Homo sapiens: one gene and its partners. The protein of the gene in region 4 purifies or fractionates together with the protein of the main gene of each other region. This does not show direct contact. Each region holds a gene or a part of one and is shown on either strand. Other genes may lie near its edges.

What was found.
Region 1: the proteins of PGD (region 4) and HEBP1 fractionate together in Homo sapiens (co-fractionation; one large-scale study listed by BioGRID). This does not show direct contact.
Region 2: the proteins of PGD (region 4) and ALDH7A1 fractionate together in Homo sapiens (co-fractionation; one large-scale study listed by BioGRID). This does not show direct contact.
Region 3: the proteins of PGD (region 4) and OXCT1 fractionate together in Homo sapiens (co-fractionation; one large-scale study listed by BioGRID). This does not show direct contact.
Region 5: the proteins of PGD (region 4) and TALDO1 fractionate together in Homo sapiens (co-fractionation; one large-scale study listed by BioGRID). This does not show direct contact.
Region 6: the proteins of PGD (region 4) and ABAT fractionate together in Homo sapiens (co-fractionation; one large-scale study listed by BioGRID). This does not show direct contact.
Region 7: the proteins of PGD (region 4) and GSTO1 fractionate together in Homo sapiens (co-fractionation; one large-scale study listed by BioGRID). This does not show direct contact.

Annotation. Positions count from the first base shown.
Region 1 is NC_000012.12:12,976,266-12,979,765, forward strand, and holds part of HEBP1 (heme-binding protein 1), read right to left. Parts: intron 3,358-3,500; exon of another isoform or gene 3,166-3,357; intron 2,757-3,165; exon of another isoform or gene 2,676-2,756; intron 1-2,675.
Region 2 is NC_000005.10:126,553,720-126,557,219, forward strand, and holds part of ALDH7A1 (alpha-aminoadipic semialdehyde dehydrogenase isoform 1 precursor), read right to left. Parts: intron 2,297-3,500; coding exon 2,212-2,296; intron 675-2,211; coding exon 568-674; intron 1-567.
Region 3 is NC_000005.10:41,804,426-41,807,925, reverse strand, and holds part of OXCT1 (succinyl-CoA:3-ketoacid coenzyme A transferase 1, mitochondrial isoform 3 precursor), read left to right. Parts: intron 1-487; coding exon 488-595; intron 596-2,244; coding exon 2,245-2,359; intron 2,360-3,500. UniProt on the Homo sapiens protein: Key enzyme for ketone body catabolism.
Region 4 is NC_000001.11:10,402,064-10,405,563, reverse strand, and holds part of PGD (6-phosphogluconate dehydrogenase, decarboxylating), read right to left. Parts: intron 2,494-3,500; coding exon 2,428-2,493; intron 1,404-2,427; coding exon 1,285-1,403; intron 1-1,284. UniProt on the Homo sapiens protein: Catalyzes the oxidative decarboxylation of 6-phosphogluconate to ribulose 5-phosphate and CO(2), with concomitant reduction of NADP to NADPH.
Region 5 is NC_000011.10:753,964-757,463, forward strand, and holds part of TALDO1 (transaldolase), read left to right. Parts: intron 1-1,915; coding exon 1,916-2,039; intron 2,040-3,500. UniProt on the Homo sapiens protein: Catalyzes the rate-limiting step of the non-oxidative phase in the pentose phosphate pathway. Catalyzes the reversible conversion of sedheptulose-7-phosphate and D-glyceraldehyde 3-phosphate into erythrose-4-phosphate and beta-D-fructose 6-phosphate.
Region 6 is NC_000016.10:8,775,617-8,779,116, reverse strand, and holds part of ABAT (4-aminobutyrate aminotransferase, mitochondrial isoform 1 precursor), read right to left. Parts: intron 2,774-3,500; coding exon 2,627-2,773; intron 1-2,626. UniProt on the Homo sapiens protein: Catalyzes the conversion of gamma-aminobutyrate and L-beta-aminoisobutyrate to succinate semialdehyde and methylmalonate semialdehyde, respectively. Can also convert delta-aminovalerate and beta-alanine.
Region 7 is NC_000010.11:104,253,638-104,257,691, reverse strand, and holds the start of GSTO1 (glutathione S-transferase omega-1), read right to left. Parts: upstream 2,801-4,054; 5' UTR 2,764-2,800; coding exon 2,730-2,763; intron 2,530-2,729; coding exon 2,421-2,529; intron 1-2,420. UniProt on the Homo sapiens protein: Exhibits glutathione-dependent thiol transferase and dehydroascorbate reductase activities. Has S-(phenacyl)glutathione reductase activity. Also has glutathione S-transferase activity.

The DNA of each region.
Region 1 (3,500 bases), on a different chromosome or scaffold from region 4:
TAGTAAGGAAAGAGACTGTTCCTAAATCTGGTATTTCTTTTGATGGCAGAAATTGGGGACAGAGAAGCAATAAAGCCTTTCTTTTCAAGATTATTATTCTCTCCCTTACGTCATGTGCTTCTGTTCCAAAATTTGTCTTGTAGCCTAGCCTAAATATACCACTCTAAATCTGGGTTGCACTAAAATTTTTATTAGAGTCAAGTACATCCCGATTTCTAATGAGCTGTATGACTCAAAAGTCTGAATTTGCACCAGGCCAAGATTAGGCCAAATAATGCATTATTTTTGGTGGAGTCCTCTGAATCATGCTTTGCTCTTTTACAAGTGGTTAGTCATGCTGGACAAGCATTCAGCATGTGGATTGCAGCATCACTGATGTGAACACCCAGGATGTTTTCTGTAATGGATTGGTTGTTCCAATGTCTAGACAACAGCTACAGAACATGGATGAAACTGAGACCAATTTTGAATAGCAGAGGCTTGATTCTTCAAATATATTGAAGAGATTATAAGGGAGATGAAGAAAGTTGGGCTCTAGCTTCATTGAGGTTCAAATGAGAGGAAACTGGGTTAGTAGACAGACAATGAACATCCAGGAAAGACTTTTTTCAGGCAATAAGAGCCTGTAAGACACTGGAGTTTTTTATGAACCATGTCTTTAGTTGGAGAACCATTTGTCTGAAATGAATCAAGTGCTGGAGGTGGAAGCAGGTGTTGAGTGCTCTCTGCACCCCCTACTTGTGCTGTGACACTGAACTGTTCTCTAGGAAAAGGGACAATGTTGGCTCTTTAAATACTGATTTTGGAAAGCTCCAAAGGAGTGCTCCTCAAATGTCTTCCTTCATCAGTTAGAGGCAAAATGGCTAGTGTGTGCTCAAATCCTAGTGCTGCCCTTTCTAGGTCTTAAGCTAATTCTAAAATTTCTCAAATCTTCAGGTTTTTCACTGGTAAAATAGGGATAGTGATAACATCAATCTTCGAAGGCTACTGTAAAGATTAAAGGAGAAAAGACTATGCAAACTGCTCAGCGCAGAGCCTGTCACGTAGTAAGCTCACAACAAACAGTAGCTATTATTGTTACTTGGCAGTTTGCTCAGAAGAGCCTTTTAATTCCCTGACTCCAGGGTGAGGGACATGATGGTAATCTAACGAAATACCATGTAGCTGAGTGTTGTGGTGCATGCCTGTGGTCCCAGCTACTTGGGAGGCTGAGGCAGGAGGACTGATCAAGGCCAGGAGTTGAGGCTGCACTGTGCTATGATCACATCTGTGAATAGCCACTGCATTCCAGCCTGGACAACATAGTGAGATCCTGTCTCCAAAACAAAAACACAAAATACAACTAAAAAAAACCATAGTAATATTATGAACTGGCTCAATGAACAATTCTCACTTTCTCAATTAGGCCTATTCTTAAAATGCTTTGTTACCTTGTAAACCCCATTCTTTAACCCCATCCCAATCTTCTTCCTATGTTTTACTTTTTCTTTCTTTCTTTTTTAACAGCACTTATCACCTTTTAACATACTATATAATTTACTCATTAAGTTTATTGTTTATGGTTTGTGTCCTCTGATAGAATATAGGCTGCACAATGGCAGGATTTTTGTTATTTTTTGGTCACTGATGTACACTGAGCACCTAACACAGTGCCTGAATATGTTGGACCCCTTGGTTAAATGAACAATTCTGGGCTAAACAATGAAAGTGATGTCTTCAGCCTGACAGAGCTAAAGATGACAGCACTTAGGACCTAGTGAGTGAAGTGGTTACATAAGTTTCACTCACTCATTCACATAATAAACATCTGAGGGGACAGTGGTGGGAACTGAAACAGGAGAAGTGGATCCACTGCAGCCAGATGCGAAGGCCTTGAATGCCATGCTAAAGAGTTTGAACCTCATCCTATATGCACAGGTAGACCTACGAAAGGGTTTTTTTTTTTTTTTTTTTTTTTTTTTTTGAGACAGAGTCTCACTCTATTACCCAGGCTGAAGTGCAGTGGCGCAATCTCGGCTCATTGCAACCTCTGCCTCCCAGGTTCAAGTGATTCTCCTGCCTTAGCTTCCCGAGTAGCTGGGACTACAGGCACACGCCCAGCTAATTTTTGTATTTTTAGTACAGATGGGGTTTTGCCGTATTGGCCAGGCTGGTCTCAAACTCCTGACCTCAGGTGATCCACCCGCCTCAGCCTCCTAAAGTGCTGGGATTACAGGTGTGAGCCACCACGCCCGGCCTGGAAAGGGTTTTAAAGTAGAGGACTGGCACGATCCAATTGTGCTTTGGAAGGATCCCTCTGCTGGCAGTGGAGGGACAGGGGAAATGGCAAGGGGTTGAGAGATGTGGGGCCACCGGAGCCCAGGAACAGCCAAGTGTGAGATGATGAAGGTGGGAGAAAGGCAGATTTGAGAGGTACCTGTATGTGGAGGGAGGTAAGAGAGAGGAAGGAAGAGAGGATTCTCCAGGGCTTCCAGTTAAGCCTCTGGGTAGAAGAAGATGCCGCTAACCAGAATAGGGATTAAAGGCTGAAGAGTAACATTAGGCAGGAGGGGCAGCTGTAGGGGTGTTCATGATTTAGTTTGGGGGGCATATGAATATTAAGGGCCCTCTGTGAAATACATTCATGCAACAATTATTATCTAAATGTGTGTCTGACCATGTAAAAATCTCCTTAGACTTGGGACAGAACTGGAGTCAGAGATACCAATTTGGGAAGGAGAAGGATCTAGTGACAGAAACTTGGGAGTGCCCAGTGGGTAGGTACTGGCTATAATCATGGTAAGAAGTGACATGTGGTAGAGATGTTGTGCAAACAGCAGGCCAGAAGCTTGCTCCTTAGAATCCTAATATCTAAATGGTGGGTGAAGAAAGAGGACCGGTCAAAGGACAGTGAGAAGGGGCTGAGAAGCAGAAGGAAACCCAGCAGAGAGTGAGATGGAGAATGTCATCACTCAGGGAGTCCTAAAATTCACTCCGGGAAAACCCCCAATTCTTTACATTTATTCCCAGGCAGACTGAAATGCTGGTAATGCAGATAAAATTTTCCCTATTGCTTCATCGTAGAATCCTTTTACTGGAAAACAAACAAACTGGGTGGGCTATGGGAACAGATACATGAGTTCTCCTCTCTGCTAATTTAACCAACCACACTGACTCCCATCACAGAACTGCACAAACAAGCCAGAAACTGAACCCTACCCGGAATCCCCTGGTGTATGAAGGGAGCCTAGCTCTGGCTGACTCTGCTTGTGTTCACAGACACTTTGCCTCATTGGTTCGTGCCTCAGCTTCCAATCTGGACATGGAGCACAATAACAGTGGGCCCACTGCTCTCCGAATTCCTGCGCGCACTTGAAGGTGAGTTAAGAAATGCTCATAAAGTGCTTTGAGCCCCTAAAAGAAAGAAACGTGAAGTCTATACATTATCTTTGTAAGCCTGTGAATACGTCTTTATCTATAAACGCCTCATCTTGAAAGAAGCTCTCCTCCAGGGCAGTGTT
Region 2 (3,500 bases), on a different chromosome or scaffold from region 4:
GAGGATTGCTTTAGTCCAGGAGGAAGAGGGTGCAGTGAGCTGAGATCGTGCACCACTGCACTCCAGCCTAGGTGGCAGAGCAAGACCCTGTCACAAAAACAAACAGAGCCAAGTGTGGTGGTTCATGCCTGTAATCCCAACACCTTAGGAGGCCAGGGTGGGTGGATCACTTGAGGCCAGGAGTTAGAGACCAGCCTGGCTAACATGGGAAACCCCATCTCTACCAAAAAATATAAAAATTAGCTGGGTGTGGTGACATGCACCTGTAATCCCAGCTACTCGGGAGGCTGAAGCAGGAGAATCACTTGAACCTGGGAGGCGGAGGTTGCCGTGAGCCAAGATTGCGCCACTGCACTCCATCCTGGGCACAGAGTAAGACTCTGTCTCAAAAACAGACAAACAAACAAAAACATGTGTTTCCTTGTTTTATAATAATATATATAAATAAAGACAGGAGAAGAAGGATGTCAAATGGGGTGGCTTTTCCAATATGCCCAGAGCCCTGCTTGTGTCTCAGGGAAAAGAAGGTTAAAAAGCTGTCACAATTGATCTCAGAGCATCCCTTACCTTGCCCCCATAGACCACTGTGCCACCTTCTTTCTTTGCTTCTTCCACTGCTCCAAGAAACATGCTCACTGCCTGCTTGGTGTGGAGTGGCCCATAGAGAACATTAGCTGGAGAGAGAAAAGGAAGGCTGGCTCATCATTTTGCCCTTTATGGCATCGTTTTATTATTAGAACAGCTTTCTCAATGAACAGACCAATCCCTTCCTATATGCTCTCAATTGAGAACATAAGTCAGCATCCTTTTTCCATAAAGAACCAGATGGTAAATATTTTATGCTTTGGAGGACATACGTGATCTCCATCCCAATACTCAACTCCGTAATTGTAGTGCAAAAGCAGCCATAAATGACATGCAAATGAGTGGGTATGTGCCGAGAAACTTTTTTTTACAGAAACAGGCAGAGCCAAGTCTGTTTGCCAATCTCTAGTTTAAAGGAATGGCTATCAATTACTCAAAGCACTGCACTCAAAATATAGGGTCAGTTTACTCATTACAGTGTGACCATTCTCTAAGGAAACATCACAGTCTCAGTAGTTGGTGTATAATTCAAGGGGGAAGAGAATGATGCTGTCCTATGTTACGGCTGCTGGGGACTAGAGCACTGACAGTGACCCAGCAACAAAGAAGAAGGAAGATGTAGGTAGGCCTCTATGAGGAGGAGGCATGTTAGCAGAGCCATCCCCACTCTGGGTGAAGAATGTTTCCAGCAGACAGCACAGTAGGATAGAGCCTGGCATGCCTGGAACACTGAAAGGATGTTGGAGAAGGTGGAGCTCTGGGAGCAAGAGGGAAAATAGACACAGAAAGGCTGGTGAGAAGGCAAGCGGGGCAGGAGGCAGAGAGCAGACCAGGAAGGATCGGGAGCCTGCAAAAAAGAAGAAATCAAGAGGACTCTCGGTTTTAATCTAAAAGCAGGCCTGGCGCAATGGCTCACACCTGTAATCTTAGCACTTTGGGAGGCCCAGGCAGGCAGACTGCTTGAGGTCAGGTGTTCGAGACCAGCCTGGCCAACGTGGCAAAACCCTGTCTCTACTAAAAATATGAAAATCAGTCAAGCGTGGTGGAATGCACCTGTAATCCCAGCTATTCGAGAGGCTGAGGCAGGAGAACTGCTTGAACCCAGGAGGCGGAGGCTGCAGTGAGCTGAGATCAAGCCACTGCACTCCAGCCTGAGCAACAGAGTGAAACTGTGTCTCAAAAAAAAAAAAAAAAAAAAAGAAAGGAAAAAAAATCTAAAAGCAATGAGAAGTTACTGAGGGGTATTTTAAGCAGGAGAGTGAATTATCTGATTGCATTTTAAAAATCATTCTGTAGCAATGGATGCAGAAAGGTCAGTTAGGGGATTCTTGCAGCCTTGCACAAGAGGGATGGTGTCGGCTTGGACAAGGGTAATAGTAATGAGAGAGAAGCACACTAAATCTCATTCCATCTAAACAACCTCTCCCAGTCTCACCCACTAGCACACATCAAGCAGCCAGGGTCGAAACCTAGGAGCAGACACGATACACCAAAGCCTAATAACCTGCTTCATGTGCCTTCACGCCTCTCAGGAAAGGGAAAGAAACTCCAAAACTCAGATCAGAAACACTTGTTAACAACAGCTCTCAAAAAGGGATCGCTTTGAAAGCAGAAGGAGATACTCACGGTCCCATGGGTTCCCAACTCGGATCTGTGCATAGGCCTTTTTAAGTCTGTTTACAACCTCATCATGGATGCTTTCATGTATAAACTAAACGAAAAAAGATATTCAAGGGCATAGTATGATAAATGCACACATTTTTAAACAATGAATAATTTCCTTGATAGTTACTGAAATACTGTAATCTCTAAAAATATAAGAAAATCAAAGCATGTTTATTTTTTTAATTATATAATTTATCATTTTAATATTAACTATATGAAGTCAAAATTTTCCTTTTAGGTAGATAATAGAATAAAATCATAAGCCATGTCTTTTTTTTTTTTTTTTTTTTTGAGACAGAGTCTCACTCTGTCACCCAGGCTGGAGTGCAGTGGCATGATCTCAGCTCACTGCAACCTCCACTTCCCGGGTTCAAGCGATTCTTATACCTCAGCCTCCCGAGCAGCTGGAATTACAGGCACCCACCACCACACCTGGCTAATTTTTTGTATTTTTAGTAGAGACAGGCTTTTGCCATGTTGCCTAGGCTGGTCTTGAACTCCTGACCTCAGGTGATCCACCCACCTCAGTCTCCCAAAGTGCTGGGATTACAGGTGTGAGCCACCACACCCGGTCCATAAGCCACATCTTCATCAAGTTTCCAAGGATGTATTTGTCTAAGCTTCACAAATACATTAAAGAAGGCCTCAAGTACATGTGTCCCATACTGTAACCCTAAGTCCCAGTGAACACAGAGCATAGTCATAACTGACCTCTGCTGGGTAACTACAAACACTTAACCCCAGGCCACACAGGTCTCCAGAGGAGGCCTTAATTAGGTGAGGACAACCCTTGCATTCTCTGGGTAGTTGTCAGGTCCATGCTATGCTCCAAGTGGCAGAGCTGAACTTGCCAAACCATCTATGCTCTGGGTTAGTCTCCACATGTGATGAATGAATTGACATTATGAGAACTAGTCATGAAGCAGTCCATAGTAATGGAATTTTTAAAAATATTACTGCTAACTCTAAGGAAATCTATTTGGACAATGACTAATATTACCTATTAATATTTAAAACTAATATAAAAGACGTCTATGAATATTTGCTCCAAAACACATGAAAAAAATAAAAATTGGCTGAATAGAGAAATATTTGGCTTTTATGTCATTTCATATTTTACCATGTAATGAAGGGTATAATCATTTGGAGTGCATGGTTTTTTCTTAGCTTTAACGTAATCTTTAACGCAATTTAATGTTTATGGTGAACAAATTTAATAAACTTTAAAGTTACAAATGTAGTATCAGATT
Region 3 (3,500 bases), on a different chromosome or scaffold from region 4:
AATTTACAACTGTTACAAATAGCATTTGTATCTATATTTAAAAAGCTCTTCAATTGACCAAGCAGATGTTATTACAGATTTTTGTCTTTGATATGATAAATTTCCCATTAATTTAGAAAATCTGTGTTTAAGGAATGTGCTATCATTGCATAGTTGAACTGCAATTTGTGAAAGTTCAAGCTGCTGTACTGACAAACCATTTGACAAATTTGTAACTGAGACTCTTTTAAGCAAAGACTAACTTCTGGAGCCTAATGGTCTGTATTTTCTGTTCAGACGCATACACTTTAATTTCTTCTCTTTTGTGGGTCCAGGAGGTGTGATAGACATTACCTATATGTATACATATACATACATAGATATATGTCCATATTCCGTCATATGTTTGCAGCCTAAGTTGTATGTGAAGTTGTGTATACTTTTTAAAAAATTAAAAATGTTCACTTTAAGCTTTCACTAACTTTGAAAGAAATTTCTCTTTGTCTAGGTTGAAGAAATTGTGGATATTGGAGCATTTGCTCCAGAAGACATCCATATTCCTCAGATTTATGTACATCGCCTTATAAAGGGAGAAAAATATGAGAAAAGAATTGAGGTAATTGACTTAGCTGCTTTGTCAGTATTCATGGATCCAGTTACAGAGATAGTGCATCCCTGGGGCCATTCGAGATGATGGGGAACTAGAGCTGAGCAGAAAGTCTGGTCTTGGATCTTAGTAAGAGCTTCTCATGTGTCTATCATCATGGGGATATGATGGTCTATGCCTCTGTGCAGGCTGACAGTGCCTTGTCATCACAAGATATGTATCACCATGCCATGAGATTCTCTAGGCTGTGTCTACTAGGCTTCTACTGTCCTAATTTATGATCTGTAGTTTTTCTGGCTGTCTTAGAGGGGAGATAAGAATAATCATGTCTTTGGTGGTTTTATCCCTGCTGTAGTCTTATCTTAATGTTTGATTGTTCAGAATTGTCTGTCTTGAAGGTGCTTTGCACTTTTCTAGAGTGTAGAATGTCATTCTAATTAGCTTCAGGCTGTGGGTAGCTGGTGAGTATGAGATTGTGGCAAGGAGTGTAGGTACCAGGAGCATTGAAGGTATTCTAAGGCCAGTGTGTTAGTCCCTTTTGCATTGCTGTAAAAGAATACCTGAGACTGGGTAATTTATAAAGAAGTTTGTTTGGCTCACACTTCTGTGGGCTATACGTGAAGCATGGCACCAGCATCTGCTTCTGGTCAGGACCTCAGGAAGCTTTTACTCAGAGCAGAAGGAAAAGGGGAAGCAGGCATGTCACAAGGCGAGAGAGAGAGAAGGTGCCAGGCTCCTTTAGACAACCAGCTCGTGTGTAAACGAACAGAGGGAGAACTCCTGCATTTCCAAGGGATGGCACTAAGCCAATTCATAAGGGATCTGCATCCATGATCCAACACTTCCCACTAGGCCGCATCTCCAACATTGGAAAGTACATTTCAACCTGAGATTTGGAGGGGACACATATCTAAATCATCAGCCAGTGAGAGTAGACAATGGCCACCCTACCAGAATTACTGTCATGATTTAGAAGTGTCTAGGGATCAGCAACAGAATAGACATACAGTAGGGTGCTAGAGATACCCACTACCTTGTAGATATCAAACAGGAAGACATTTTATAATACAAAACCAGTGTCAGGGGCCCAGGAAGAAAGGATGAGACTTTTGCAAACACGAGCCAGAGTTTGTGTCAAAGAGACTTAATAGAGGAAATAGTTTCCTGGCTGGTTTCTGGGTATTTCTATGATTCCTGTGGTGCATTTGTGGTAAAAATAGTCTGGACTTTGCAGGTGGAAACAGGCAATTGGCAGCAGCAACACCTGGTAAACACATTCTGACAGCCCTGAAAAACACATTCCCAAAGTCTGTTCCTCTTTCATTCTTCTGGCCAATCCCTGAGCACCAGAGGAGAATTTAGTTGGAAGAATAACAGAAGGAGCAGACAGTGTGATAGTAACAGATTATTTGCTTCAAACAGACTGAACAGCGTATCTTCCTCTTTAAACAAATCTGACCACTTTCATTTAGTTCCTAAAGAATTATTTCTACCATCAAATATCACCCATAGTATTTTTTAAATATCTGGTATATTGCAGATTTGTCTCATAACAATGGGAGAGAGCTCATCTTTTTTTCCAGTAAAATTTATTTCAGCAGTGATAAAATACAAAGCATACCTCAACCACGAATAATTTATTTCTGTTTAATTTAAAGCGTTTATCAATCCGGAAAGAGGGAGATGGGGAAGCCAAATCTGCTAAACCTGGAGATGACGTAAGGGAACGAATCATCAAGAGGGCCGCTCTTGAGTTTGAGGATGGCATGTATGGTATCCTTTATCCTTCTGAGCCCGGGCAAAGACATAGCCTTTGCTTTTCCCATATTGATCAGGCTATTAGACCTCTTGCATAGTGAGTCATCTCTAGTCTATGGTAACTTTTAAGGTAATTAATCAATTTTTTTTTTTTTTTTACAAAATGTGGCATATAATCCAAAGGTGTCAAGATACATGACAGATATCTCTTTGCCTTCTTGAAACAAAATGGCAATCAATAATTTGCTTAGCTATTTTCTAATACCCATTAGATTTCAGTACAACTTGCATTTAATGGGAGATTATTGGGAAAAGAGATTACCCAAGATGAGTGTTTTCAAATCTCAGAATTCCTAGTGATAACCAGTGCTATTTACTTTCTGTCTATCCTGACATTTGCATACTCATTGAAAGATCCAACTTCTTAACAACCCTTTTATTCTCTTGACAAAGATCCTGTGATTACCCTGTTATATCTAATATTTTATGAGGGTATTCAACAAATGATTCAAATTCTGCTTTAGATACTTTGTCAAAAAAAGAGGTAGAGTAGACATAATTAATGCAATTAATATTTGGATTTTGAATGCATTTAAATAACAAATCTGTTCACCATTTTGCTAGTTTTCACTACAGTAGACATTGAATTATATAATACAAATAACACATACAAATACAGATCGCATATGATAAAATGAATGTTTGTTGAATGGTGGATACAGTGAAGCCATACTTAAAAGACCTAGGACAGAAAGAATGAGAGACATGACAAATGTCTCCATTCTGTGAGCTTCCCTGGTCCATGAATGTCAGTCTTCCAGACTGTGATCTTGACTGGGAGAACTTTTCTTTTTTCCCTTTCTTTTTACCTCTACCTCATTTTTGTTCATTTTTCAGTTTATACCTTGTGTTATGGTGCAAACTCACATAGGGGAAAAGAATAGCATGTTGCTGCTCTTCCAGTTCTTGTATCAGCAAGGTGTGGTGTCAACCAAGTTGAGTTAGTAGGTAAAAGTTGGTCACTGGACTTCTCAACCCGTCTTATCCTGACTTACCATTGATATTTAAACACTGACTATAATACTGATTTTAGGTGTTCTTTATTCAGTTATTGTATTGCCTGTGAAAAATATTTGCAAGTCAGTTTATGCAAGTG
Region 4 (3,500 bases):
CCAGCCTTAAAGAATCATATTTCAGACCAGGCACGGTGGCTCACGCCTGTAATCCCAGTACTTTGGGAGGCCAGGGCAAGCGGATTGCCCACAATTATTTATATATATATCGGATTGCCCACAATTATTTATATATATGTGTGTGTGTGTGTGTGTGTGTGTATTTTTTGTTTGTTTTGTTTTGTTTTGTTTTTGAAACAAACTCTCACTCTGTCGCCAGGGTGAAGTGCAGTGGCGCGATCTCGGCTCACTAACCTCTGCCTCCTAGGTTCAAGCAATTCTCCTGTCTCAGCCTCCCAAGTAGCTGGGACTACAGGCGCACGCCACCATGCCCGGCTAATTTTTGTATTTTTAGTAGAGACAGGAATTTACCATGTTGGCCAGGATCGTCTAGATCTCCTGACCTGGTGATCTGCCTGCCTCAGCCTCCCGAAGTGCTGGGATTACAGGCGTGAGCCACCACGCCCGGCCAATTTATATTTTTTAATTAAAAAAATGTTTGTTTTACTTTTTTGTAGAAACAGGATCTCGCTATGTTGTCCAGGCTAGTCTTCAACTCCTGGGCTCAAATGATCATTCACCGCAGCTTCCCAAAGTGCTGGGCAGTGATTACAGGCATGGGCCACTATGCCCAGCCTGTTACCCACGATTATCACATTAAGTTACTTTTGGGTTATATATCAGCTAAAAGAGGCAGACCTTATTCCTACATCCAGACATTGCACAGAACATTACCTAAACTGCTTCCTTAAAGCCTATTTAGAGGCCAAGTGTGGTGGTTCATGCCTGTAATCCCTGCACTTTGGGAGGCCAAGGCGGGCAGATCGCCTAAGGTCAGGAGTTCGAGACCACCCAAGGTAACATGGTGAAACCCTGTCTCTACTAAAAGGCAAAAAATTAGCCAGGCATGGTGGCATGTGCCTGTAGTCCCAGCTACTCAGGAGGCTGACGCACAAGAATTGCTTGAGCCCAGGAGACGGGGGGTGCAGTGAGCTAAGATCTCACCACTGCACTCCTGCCTGGGCGGGAAAAAAAAAAAAAGCCTATTTAGAACGTCAGGTATCAGTCTTGATAGAAATAACAGAAGAAAAAAGGCAAAAGAGGATTGTGCACATATACTATATCAAAGCAACAAAATGTCTAGATAAAAGAAATTGCCAGCATCTCCCAGCTGTCACACTCAGGGCACCACAGAGATCAGGGTGGCAGAACTGCTCCTGGCTTATTCGTTCTCAAAGTCCAGCTCCCTTGTACAGAGATGGGCACAGTGCTGATGGCACTCACCACGCTTCTTTGTTCCCTCCTGGCATGAGCGATGGGCCATACCGGGCCCCTTCCTCTCCACCACTGACTCCGCTCCCCACAAATAAAATTCCCTTGGCCTTGAGGTCTCGGCACCGTCTCTGAAGGACAGAAAAATAATTTCATTATGCTTCCATGTTTCATTATGCTTCCATGTTTCATTATGCTACCCAAAAATGTTTCCCTTATAAATGAGAGGAAGTATAAGATAGGAATGGAGAGCCTACATTTACAGGAAATGACCCAAGGATCTAGGAATAACTGATGACTCAGGAAAGTTAATCCCCTATGTGTAGGAGTTAAAAAACAAAACAATACAACTATGGACATTCACGATACCTACCTCATCCCCAAAGTAAAATAATTAAGCCAAACACACATTGGCATTTTACTGGAAAAGACCTTGAATAAGACTCAACGAAGAGTAGGTGTAATACAACTTAATGCCATTCAGCACTTCAGAGCACACAGGAATTCCCTCAGCATTTGATACCATTAGAGGAGTGGTTCTAAACCAGTTATAGACTGACATATCATGGATTACTTGGAAGGGGAAGGGGAGGAGTTAAAACGTAATTCTCAGCCTGCTGTATCTGAGTTAGTCATCCTTTGAGTTGTATGTGTGACTGAGAATCTCACCCACCAAGTGTCTTTTTTTTTTTTTTTTTTTTCAGATGGAGTTTCACTCTGTCGCCCAGGCTGGAGTGCAGTGGCATGATCTCGGCTCACTGCAACTTCTGCCTCCCAGGTTCAAACAATTCTCCTGCCTCAGCCTCCCAAGTAGCTGGGACTACAGGCGCATGCCACCATGCCAGGCTAATTTTTTGTATTTTTAGTAGAGACGGGTTTTCGCCATGTTAGCCAGGATGGTCTTGATCTCTTGACCTCTTGGTCCACCTGCCTCCGTCTCCCAAAGTGCTGGGATTACAGGTGTGAGCCACCACACCCGGCCCTTCTGTTAAGTGTGTCTTAACAGAAAAAAAGGCTGAGAACTATTGTATCAGTAGTAATCTCAAAAAAATCAGTACCACAGGGCAGTTCACCCTACTGTCACATATGCGATGCTGACACTTTTTTCTAGAATGTTCTCGGAACCTGGAAGAATCTGGACTGAAGAACACTTACTGTGGTGTCCCTATATTCAGAATTTCCTCCGTCAATGATGATGTCACCAGTATCCAACAATGGTACCTGTAACCAGACACCAGCATTAAGATGGACCAAAAATGAAACATACCTTGGCAAATTAAAACAAACAAGAATTTATTCCAAATAAACATAGTCTAAAAAGAGTCTCGTTCTGTTGCCCAGCTTGGAATGCAGGAGTGCGAACATGGCTCACTGAAACCCTGAACTCCTGCAGTGGTGTGAACATGACTCACTGCAACTTTGAACTCCTTGAACCACAATGCCCAGCTAGTTTTAAAATTTTTTTTGTAGGCCAGGCGCGGTGGCTCACGCCTGTTATCCCAGCACTTTGGGAGGCCGAGGTGGGTGGATCATAAGGTCAGGAGATCAAGACCATCCTGGCTAACATGGTGAAACCTCGTCTCTACTAAAAATACGAAAAATTAGCCGGGCGTTGTGGCAGGCGCCTTGTAGTCCCAGCTACTCGGGAGGCTGAGGCAGGAGAATGGCGTGAACCCGGGAGGTGGAGCTTGCAGTGAGCTGAGATCGCAACACTGCACTCCAGCCTGGGGGACAGAGTGAGACCCCGTCTCAAAAAAAAAAAATTTTTTTTGAGATGGAGTCTCACCATGTCGCCCAGGCTGGTCTCAAACTCCTGGGCTAAAAGCCTCCTGGCTTGGCAGGAGGCCAACGCACCCAGCCTACTTAATCTTCAATAATCCTCTCTGTGGCCAGAGCTGCACACTATTTAAAAGTTTAGGGCTGACCAGGCTCAGTGGCTCACACCTGTAATCCCAACACTTTGGGAGGTTGAGGCAGGAGGATCGCTTGAGCCCAGGAATTTGAGACCAGCATGGACAGCATAGCAAGACCCCATTTCTATTTTTAAGTAAGTATACAGATTAAACACTGACTATAATGTGTCTAGAAGAGAGTGGGGATTCAGTAAATACATATCAAATGGTTTAGTGTATGAATGAATGATTTTATGACAACAGTTCGGAGGTCAGGAAGAGACAGAGCCTTGAACATGAATATCTACCTACAGCACACCAACCAGGCTGGGCTTT
Region 5 (3,500 bases), on a different chromosome or scaffold from region 4:
TTGGTTACTCTGAAGAAAAAAACTTTTTTATTTTTTTTTGCAACAGAGTCTTGCTCCATTGCCCAGGCTGTAGTGCAGTGGCACAATCTCGGCTCACTGCAACCTCCACCTCCCGGGTCCAAGTGATTTTCCTGCCACAGCCTCCCGAGTAGCTGGGATTATAGGCATGCACCACCACGCCTGGCTAATTTTTATATTTTTAGTAGGGACAGGGTTTCGCCGTGTTAGCCAGGCTGGTCTCGAACTCCTGACCTCAAGTGATCCACCCCCGTTGGCCTCCCAAAGTGCTGGGATTACAGGTGTGAGCCACTGTGCCCAGCCACTGAGTAGCATTTTATGACTGGGTTGATTAAAGCAGAGAATGTCAGCTTTATAAAAGGGACCACCAGTACAATTTGAACAAAAACTTGGGACATTGTCAAAGTTGTCCACTCCGACTAAAAGGATTCTTAGGTCAGGTTTTGTCAAGTTACCTGCAGAAGCTACTGAATGCGATATTTATTTATTTGTTTGCTTATTTATTTATGAAACAGAGTCTCACTCTGTCACCCAGGCTGGAGTGCAGTGGTGCAATCTCAGCTCATTGCAACCTCCACCTCCTGGGTTCAAGCGATTCTCTTGCCTCAGCCTCCTGAGTAGCTGGGATTACGGGCATGTGTCACCACACCCAGCTCATTTTTGTATTTTTAGTAGAGACTGGGTTTCACCATTTTGGCCAGGCTGGTTTCAAACTCCTGACCTCAGGCGATCCACCAGCCTCAGCCTCCCAAAATGCTGGGATTACAGGCATGAGCCACTGCACCCGGCCTGAATTTATTTTTTTAAGAGATAGGGTCTTGCTCTCTGGCCCAGGTGGGAGTGTAGTGGCATGATCATGGCTCACTGCAGTCTCAACCTCCTGGGCTCAAGCGATCCTCCTGCCTCAGCCTCTTGAGTAGCTGACGCTACAGGCATGCACTACCACACCTGGCTAATTTAGTCTTTCTATGAAACCTAAAAAGAATGATTGGTGAGTGATAGCAGTGGATAAAATTAGTCTTAAAGTTGCAGCAGTGCGGTTCAGCAACTATTAGATAAACTGGTTTCAGGTTAGAGGCCGCTTCAGCAACTAGGCTTGCAGGTAATAATTTTTGGAGCAATGCTGTGTGTCCTGAGTGCTTTTCCCCTTGGCCTTTTTTTTTTTTTTTTTTTTTTTTTTTGAGATGGAGTCTCACTCTGTCACCCATGCTGGAGTGCAGTGGCGCGATCTCGGCTCACTGCAAGCTCCGCCTACTGGATTCAAGCCATTCTCCTGCCTCAGCCTCCCGAGTAGCTGGGACTACAGGTGCCGACCACCACACCCAGCTAGTTTTTTGTATTTTTAGTAGAGACGGGGTTTCACCGTGTTAGCCAGGATGGTCTTGATCTCCTGACCTCGTGATCCACCCGCTTCAGCCTCCCAAAGTGCTGGGATTACAGGCGTGGGCCGCCGCGCCCAGCTCCCCTTGGCTTCTTGACTCTGTTGCAGCTGGGTATGGTGATAATGACCCAGTCCATAAGATCAGCGTTCACATGTGGCTCATGACTAGACCGCGCGCCTCCTTGTGGTGGTACGGCAGTGGGATGCACATTTTCCTTTGACCAGCGTTCTCCCAGCTGTCGCACCGCTCACTCCCATGCTGTTACAGGTCACCTCTTGCAGGGGCATATTTGATCGCTGGGCACTTAGTGTTTGTTGTTCCATCATTATGCAAACAGCCGCCTCTTGATGAACCTTCAGTGACCCAGAAGAAGGTGTGAGAAGTGTGGCTGGACCCCGCTTTCGGAAATGCTCTGGACTCCCCTAACGTCCTGGGGAATTACAGGGTTCCTTCACATGTTTCCAGTTGGAAGCAAGTACTCCACTTACTTTGGCTTTTGAAAACTATTTCCCTAGCCATCGACGAGTACAAGCCCCAGGATGCTACCACCAACCCGTCCCTGATCCTGGCCGCAGCACAGATGCCCGCTTACCAGGAGCTGGTGGAGGAGGCGATTGCCTATGGCCGGAAGCTGGGCGGGTGAGTGCCTGGACTCGGGAGGGTCCCAGCTAGGCCCTCGTGCTAGTCTAGTTGGCCTTGCTTCCCTCCCTAACTGAATTTTAGTTCTCAAACACCATGAACTCAAGGGGGGAAAAAAACCCTATCTTTTTGCCTATTTTTGTTTATTGAAGTGTAATCTGCATGAAGTAACCTGCACCTGTGGTAAATGAGCAGTTCAGAGAGTTTTGCCAATGTGTGTACCCTGTAAATACCACCCCAGTCAAGATGCAGAGCACTTGCAGACCCCCACAGGCCCCTCCTCCCCTCCTGTAGTCAGTCTCCCCAGCTCTGGTAACACTTACCTTCTGGCTGTCATTTTATTTTTTACTTTTCAGACGGAGTCTCGCTGTGTCACCCAGGCTGGAGTATAGTGGAGCAATCTTGGCTCACTACAACTTCCGCCTCCCTGGTGCAAGCAATTCTCCTGCCTCAGCTTCCCAATTAGCTGGGCTTACAGGTGTGTGCCACCACTCCTGGCTCATTTTTGTATTTTTTTTTTTTTTTTTTTTGAGACAGAGTTTTGCTTTTGTTGTCCAGGCTGGAGTGCACTGGCACAATCTCGGCTCACCGCAACCTCTGCCTCCCAGATTCAAGCGATTCTCCTGCCTCAGCCTGCCGAGCAGCTGGGATTACAGGCATGCGCCATCACACCTGGCTATAATTTTTGTATTTTTGGTGGAGACAGGGTTTCACCATGTTGGCCAGGCCGGTCTCGAACTTCTTACCTCAAGTGATCCACCTGCCTTGGCCTCCCACAGTGCTCGGATTACAGACGTGAGCCACCGTGCCTGGCTTTTTAATTTTTTAATAGCTTTTATAACTCCCAGAATGTTCTCTGGTACCTGTTTGCAGTAGCTCCCCACTCCCTTACCCAACCAAGCAACTGTAGAGCCCTCTTCATGCCTGTGGCTTTGCATATTTTAGATGTCATTTTAGATTCTCTTCAGGGTAATAATTCAAAGCTTGAAGATGGTGCCGAGCAGGCAACGTGGGCACCACACAGGAGCAGGTCCCTCTCTGGTACTGGCTTTGCTTAGGTCCAGGTGGCTGGTGAGTGGCTCCCCTGACCATGTTGTGACAGCCACTCTGGACACTGAGTCTGACCCTCTCCTCTCTCTTCTTAGCTCCCTTTTCCTCATCTCGTGGTGTTGCACCCCTGTGGCATCAGTGAGGCCTTGGTGCTCCTGTTATTGGGTGACATTGGTGCCTTTGCTTGGCTGGGTGATCAACAGATGAGCCCTGCACCCATGTCCAGATGGCCCCAAATTTTTTTTTTTTTTTTTTTTTGAGATAGAGTTTGGCTCTGTCACCTAGGCTGGAGTGCAGTGTCACAATCTCAGCTCACTGCAGCCTCTACATCCTAGGCTCAAGCCAGCCTCCCACCTCAGCCTCCCAAGTAGCTGGGACTACAGGTGCACGCCACCACACCTGGCTAATATT
Region 6 (3,500 bases), on a different chromosome or scaffold from region 4:
ACGATAAGGTTCACATGTTAAGTCCTAAGCCTGGGGCTGGGCACTTGGTGGATGCTCCACAGATGTTAGCCATCTCCATCGTCAGCTCTTCTAGAAAGGTGGTTCTTCTGGAAGAAGAAATGCCTGTCCTCCCTCAGGGCTTTGAGACTGGGAGCTGTACTGGATTGAATAGTTTCCTCCCACTGCCCCCTAAATTCATGTTTACCTGGAACCTATGACTAGGACCTAATTTGGAAATAAGGTCTTCGCAGAAATAATTAGTTAGGTTAAAATGAAGTCTTCCTGCATTAGAATGGCCCCTAATGCAATGACTGTTTTTTGTTTTTTGTTTTTTTTTTTTGAGATGGAGTCTCACTCTGTTGCCCTGGCTGGAGTGCAGTGGCACTATCTCGGCTCACTGCATCCTCTGCCTCCCAGGTTCAAAGATTCTTGTGCTTCAGCCTCCTAAATACCTGGGATTACAGGCACCTGCCATCACACCTGGCTAACTTTTTTTTGTAGTTTTAGTAGAAACTGGTTTCACAATGTAGGCCAGGCTGGTTTCGAACTCCTGACCTCAAGTGATCCACCTGCCTTGGCCTCCCAAAGTGCTGGGATTACAGGTGTGAGCCACAGCGCCCGGCTCAATGACTGGTATCTTTATAAGAAGAAGACAATCTGGAGACAGACACAGGCACAGTGGGGAGAACACCAAGTGACGCCAGAAGCAGAGTGAAGCCTCCACACGTCAAGGAACATGAAGGATTCCCGGCAGCCACGAGAAGGTGGAGAGGGGCATGGAACAGATTCTCCCCCAGAGCCTCGAGAAGGAGCCAACTCTGCTGAAACCTTGATTTCAGACCCTGGCCTCCAAACTGTGAGAGAATAAATTCTTGTTTTAACCCACACAGTTTGTGGTGATTTTTTACAGCAGACAAGGAAACAAATGCAGGTGCCTAGTCTGGAGGACCTTGATTTCACCTTACTCTCTGCTGTCCATATGAAGGACAGCAAACAAGGGCTTGGAAAACCCCAAATAATTTCAGGGTACTGGGGGCTGAGTTGGGGGAGCAAGTCTTATTTCACGGCAGCTCATTGGTAGAAACTGGAGACATGGTCCTATTCTGGGGGTGACAGAGCCGGGCACCGTGTTAGACACTTATGTGCACAATTTGTTTCTTTTTGTGGAGTATGGGTTCTCACCATGTTGCCCGGGCTGGTCTCAAACTCAGTTGAGCTGAAGGCAATCCTCCTGCTTCTGCCTCCCTAAGTACTGGGGTTACAGGCATGAGCCCCTGTGCCTGGCAGTGGGCACATTCTTGAATCCCCTGCCAGTGAAGAAGGGCTCACTTTGGTCTACACAGATAAGGAAACTGAGGCTCAGAAGTCCTTCCAGCACTTACTCTAGCATGTTCCTTGCACTTGTCAATTGCTGGGGAGCTGGCAGTTTGAACACACCCCTCCCTCTCCCACAGAGTGTGGCCCTGGGATGGTTTAGATTAAAGTCTCTTCCATTTAGACACCCCTTTAGGCCTGCCTGCCACACTCACACACACACATCCCCACACGTCCTTACGGTTAGGAGTGACCACGTGACCAGCTCTTAATCAAGTGTTAGAAGTATTATGTGAGATTTCTGGGAAGGCTGCTAAAGACAAGAAGGGGGCCACTCTGTCCTTCCCTTCTTTTTCCTTCCTATTGCCTGGAATTGAGATGCGATGGCTGGAGCTCCAGGAGCCATTTTGGCCCATGACGAAACCTTGAGGGTAGAGAGTAATCCAGCTCCAGCAGGGGAGGGCAGTGCTGCCGAGTGGTAAGTATGCAACAGGTTGCACAAAGGCGGGAATAATGAACACACTAGAGGGGGTGAGAGAGGGAGTGCTTGGGGGACTCTCAAAGGGGGGATGTCTGAAATTGGTGTCAAAAGATAACCAGGGCCGGGCACGGTGGCCCATGCTCGTGAAATCCCAGCACTTTGGGAGGCTGAGGCAAGCGGATCACCTGAGGTCGGGGGTTCGAGACCAGCCTGGCCAACATGGTGAAACCCTGTCTCTATTCAAAATACAAAAAAATTAGTAGGGCATAACGGCACATGCCCGTAATCCCAGCTACTTGGGAGGCTGAGGCCGGAGAATCTCCTGAACCCAGGAGGCAGCGGTTGCGGTGAGCTGAGATTGCGCCACTGCACTCCAGCCTGGGTACAAAGCAAGACTTGGTCTCAAAAAATAAATAGACAAATAAAATAAAATAAAATAAATAAGAAAGATAACCAGTGCCGGCAGGCGCTGCCCAGCACTTTGGGAGGCTGAGGTGGAAGGATCGTTTGAGGCCAGGAGTTCAAGGCCGGACTGGCTAACAGAGCTTGACCATGTCTCAATATTAAAAAAATAAAAAATAAATTAAAAAAAACAACAACAAAGAAAACCAGGAGTTCAGGAATAGGGGTTGGAATGGGATGGAGGGATAGGGAGGCATCCCCTGCAGAGGACACAGCATGTGCAAAGCCCCCAAGGCTAGGAGCAGCACAGCCCGTTACGAACTGCTGGAACAGCAGGCACAACACCATGCCGAAGAGCTCCAGTGTTGCCCCGGAGGCTGCTGCGGGGAGCCATGGGTGGTGGGGGCGGGGCAGGGGAGGGGGTGTTACCTGGAGGTCCAGCAGTCCTGTGAGCAGGGCCTTCCCGGCATGGGCTGCATTATTTAGCAGGTCCTCCCGCTTGATGATGTTGATGACCTCAGCCAGCAACAGGTTCTTGGACGGGTCCCCCAGCCAGGTGTTGAAGATCCGGTAGGGCTGGAATGAGGAACGGGTGTTGGAAGGCTTCACACACATGCACACCCTGCAGGAGTCACTTACCCCAGGCGCCCCGCCTCCTCTCTTGAAGAGGAGAGAAACTAATCTAGTGGGCATCTACCAGAGGCTGGCAGGGGAACACACCCAATCTCGCTGAATTCTTCTCTACCAGAGGCTAGCAGGAGAACACACCCAATCTTGCTGAATTCTTCCAACAGCAGCCCTGCATGTAGGAACTGCTATGGGGAGGACCAAATCGTCCCATGCACTGGGAAATCCCTCAGTCCCAGGAAACCAAGACAGTCAGTTCCTTAACTCCTATAACCCTCATTTTATACAGGAGGAAGCTGAGGTTCTGGGAGGCTAAGTGATTTGTCTAAGGCAAACGTGACTTACAGATGGAGTTGGGACTGGATTGCTGGCAGTGACCCTCAAAGATCATCCACTTTACCCCTCCATGAATGATTTAGGGTGGCCATGCGGCTAACTGAAACACCCTTCCCAGCCTCCCTTATGGCTAGAAGTGGCCATGTGACTGGGTCTTAGTCAAGTATTGGAAATAGACATATTATGTGAGATTTCTAGAAAGGCTGCTAAAGACAAGAAGGGGGCCACTTTGTCCTTCCCTTCTTTTTCTTTCCTACTGCCTAGAATTGAGATGTGATGGCTGGAGCATCAGAAGCCATTTTGGACCATGAGGCAACCTTGAGGGTAGAAACTACATGTA
Region 7 (4,054 bases), on a different chromosome or scaffold from region 4:
GTTTCTTGGTTTTTATGAAGATATTAAGGAATCCTTAAAATCCACCCACAAGGCCAGGCTTGGTAGCTTACATCTGTAATCCCAGAACCTTGGGAGACTGCAGTGGGCGGATTGCTTAAACCCAGGAGTTCAAGACCAGCCTGGGCAACATGATGAAACCCTATCTCTACAAAAAATATAAAAATTAGCCAAGTGTGGTGGTACTCACCTGTAGTCTCGGCTACTCCGGATGCTGAGGTGAGAAGATTGCTTGAGCCCTGGAGGCAGAGGTTGCAGTGAGCCATGATTGCACCACTGCATTCCAGCCTGGGTGACAGGGCGAGACCCTGTCTCGAAAAAAAAAAAAAAATCCACCCACAAAATAAGCTTTCAGATTAAATCTCCATGTACTGATTTTTTAAAAAATGTTGTCTGAGTAAATCATACAAAGTAAACCAAAAAGGAAGAAAACAGGTGAAGTCCAGGCTATAGTCAGATTGTATTTAGGTCTATCTTGTATGTTGCCTGAGACTGTAGAGGAACTAAGAGAAAGGAGCTAGGTCCATATGATTGTCAAGGCTGAATAAATGTTCAATAGAACAGATTACTAAAAAAAAAATAGACACCAATACCTTTTGTTTTCTATTTTCCCATCCACAGCTGTAGCTAGAACAGCATTTCATTTGAGGATTTAAATACATAATCCCCCATGTAAACAAAGGAACATCCAATTTGAACATGAGCACAGGTGTGCATGTAATTTAAAAGGTTCATGTGCTGACAATACTGGACACTTAAGTACCAGCCATTGCAAAAAAAAAAAAAATTATTTGGCTCCTTGCCAAAGAATTATCAACATTTTTGAACTATAAAACAAAAACTTTTGTTACTATGAAAACAAAAAGATCCTGGGCTTTTGTTATTTAAAAAAAAAAAAGTATGTCAGAACACACATGAATTTTGGTAAGCTGGCATTGTGAGCCAACAAGTCTACACACCTGCCACAGCAAGTTGGAAGATGCATCTTTTAGAGAAAACCATGCTTTGTTAAGTCATATCATGTGGTTAAAATCTAGTACTTTCCCAGTAAAAGCCTCCTCGGGCTCAAGCTTAAAACTGGTCTATTAATGTAGTAGACCTTTGTTGTTTGCACTGTCTGGAAGCTGTTAACCACTCTCTTCCTCCCCTCTACCCCACACTATTAGGGGAAGATAGTTTCAATGTTCCTTTGGAAAACTGCCCCAGTAAATAAGGTAGGGTTGTTTTCAAACTAAAGGTCCAGGGTGAAGCACATAACCCAGGACTTTGTGCCTCTGAATCCAGCTGTGTCATGCTCCTGGACTTTTCAAATAAATGAGTACCAAAAAATGTCTTTTTTCAATTTTGGTTACATTAGATTTCTCTTAGTACAATAAAAGAGTTCTATCACAGCAAATATGACAGTGTTTTTGAGAAACATTATGAAATAGTAAGTACTCTATGTGTTCAGAATCATAATCTCATCCAAATGAGATGCATTTCTTAGTGAAGTAATGACAAATCCCCTTCAAATGTATTTTTTAAATGCATTTTACCTTTCTTTTAGGGAAAATAATTGCCTACCCCTAAAGATTATCCCCTTAGAAGACTAAAATTAGTTCACAAACACTAAGCACACAGACAGAAAATTCCTTAAGAATAGGGGGTTTGTTTTAAACTTCCACAGAACCTTCCACACCAAAGGTATCTAATAAATGTCTAATCAACAGACATCCAAAGGTCATGGGAAGGGAAGTGGTTCCAATGGATACTTGGTGTCAGAGAAAAGTCAAGTGACTGTTGCACATATCCTGTGGATAGCCCGTAAGTCAAAAACTATGCTAGTTTCAAAACAGGCTCTGCAGAAGGATGAGCTAGACAGACACTTCCCTCTATTTGACTCAACCAACAGCCCAATCCACAGGAATATGTGCAGTAAACTCAGCACTACCCTAGGAGGGTCAGGGTCTAAACTCTGCTGTACTGGGGTAAATTACTATTCTAGGAGGGAACAATACATTCAGAATAACAACTAACAGTTAAGCTGGAATAAGAACGGGAAATCACAATAGGGCGAAAGCGAAAGGACTCTGGACCAGGAATTCGTGACCTACCAAAGCTAAAAGAGCTGCTGCCGGTTATTACCGGGCAAATCACTAACATCACTGGAGCCTCAGCTTTTCTAATCCATTAAATGGTTGGTTAATCTAAATGAGGTGTCCTAGACCGTTGGAATCTGTGGCCTATTTTTCCTAGGGGAATGGCCTATAACTTGCTATTTTCCAAAGGGCCGAGAATAGTTTAATGTGCAGTAAAGGACGCTGGTGGGAGGGGGGTAGAAGGGGGCTGAGACCCCACCCCACCCCGCCGCCTGCAGCAGGCTCCCGGACGGCTCGGGGAGCGTCCCCCGCCTGGGTGCCCACCTGATTCCCTTGGCCTTCAGGACTAGACGCGTCCTCTCAGCAAACGGGCAGAACCTCATGCTGTAGATGCGGATCGAGCCCTCCGGGACCGGCCCCGGGGGCGCGCTTCCTGCCGGGGAGAAGCGAAGGCGATTACGGCCCAGAGAGGTGTCGAGACCCCCCGTATCCCACCGCCCCCGCGTCCCACTGCAGCTCCGACCCGTTCCCCGCCGGTGGGGCGCTCCCGGGCGGCTGGGCTCCCGGAGCAGCCTCGAACATGCCGCCGGGGGTCGCCGAGATCACCCCCTCTTCGCGGCGGGCAGGCCTCACCCTTCCCCAAGCTCCTGGCTGACTCCCCGGACATCGTGGCGCAGCGCAGGCCGAGCTCCTCTGGGGTTTGCAGGGGATTCAGGAAGTAGGTGGCGCGTCCTTCCCGCCCTCCTTCCCTCCCCCGCTTCCTCCTTAGCTCAAAAGTGCCTGCCCCCGGCGGCCGCCAGCTCCACCCGTTGTGCCTTCCCGGCTTTATGGGATAGCCCTTAAAACATCTTAAGGGGCTGTGTCAAAGCATCTCGCTGGCCAAGGGCTGCACCCACGGGGAGATACACAAAAGTTATAAATGCTCAGTCATCCCTCCGCCCCCGAACGAAGGGGTCACCACTCCGCACTCCACGGGGCTCCACGTCTGACCCTGACCCTGACCTCCCTCCCGTGACACTGACCTCGAAGCACCACCCGCTCCGTCCCAAGGCTTCACGACTTCAGAGCCTGTGGCCCGACCTCATGGCTCACTCACCGGTCCAGAGCGTTCTCTCCAAAGGCTCCTGTTCAGCTTGTGAAGGGAAAATAAAAATCTCTTGACTCCAAACTCACTATGCCAAAGGGAAGAGTCAAGCTTGGAAACTGAGTCAGGCAACACTGCCTCCCATTTTGTTGCTAAATAGCTACAAAGATCAAAGGCCACACACCTCCCCAAGGAAATTCCTTGTTGGCCCGCAAGATCTTTACTCTAAAACAGATCAGTTGAATTTCATCTTGGCAATGTAAACTAACAGCTTATCTTCCCAAGTATGGGACAAAGACAGGTCTAGGAGTCATCCTTCCTCTCGCTGGAGAAAAATGCAATTTGACCGCTTCCTCTACCCTATATTTAATCTTGTAAAAATGCAGATTCACCAAGCACTAGACGAATGCATAACTGACTATTCCTCTACGACCTCCTTTCACGAATGTAACATGCGCATTCAGTGAATGCTGATCAAAGGCCCCAAAGAATGCAACTACTCTCCCCTTTTATCTACCTTCCCTTTTTACTTTCCACTTTCCCCTACTGCCTGCTCTTTCCCTTTAAATATTGAAGTCCTCAAGCCCTCTTTGGAAAGAGCACAGATCACAGATGTTCCTGTGATTTTGTGTTCCTTTTTCTCAGATGTGTCCTCAACCTTGGCAAAATAAACCTCTAAAAGGATTGAGACTCACCTTGGTCATTTCCTTTGATTTACAAGCTCATCTATGCCTCGCTGCAGGGTTGCCCAGCCACCTGGACAGGCTTTTCCTTTTTCTGTCAGTACTAGCTTAACGTGACTACTGGGAGGGCCTCTGTCCCTACCGTCACCTGTAGGATACATCCTTTTCATTTTAACCCATAGGAGACAGCA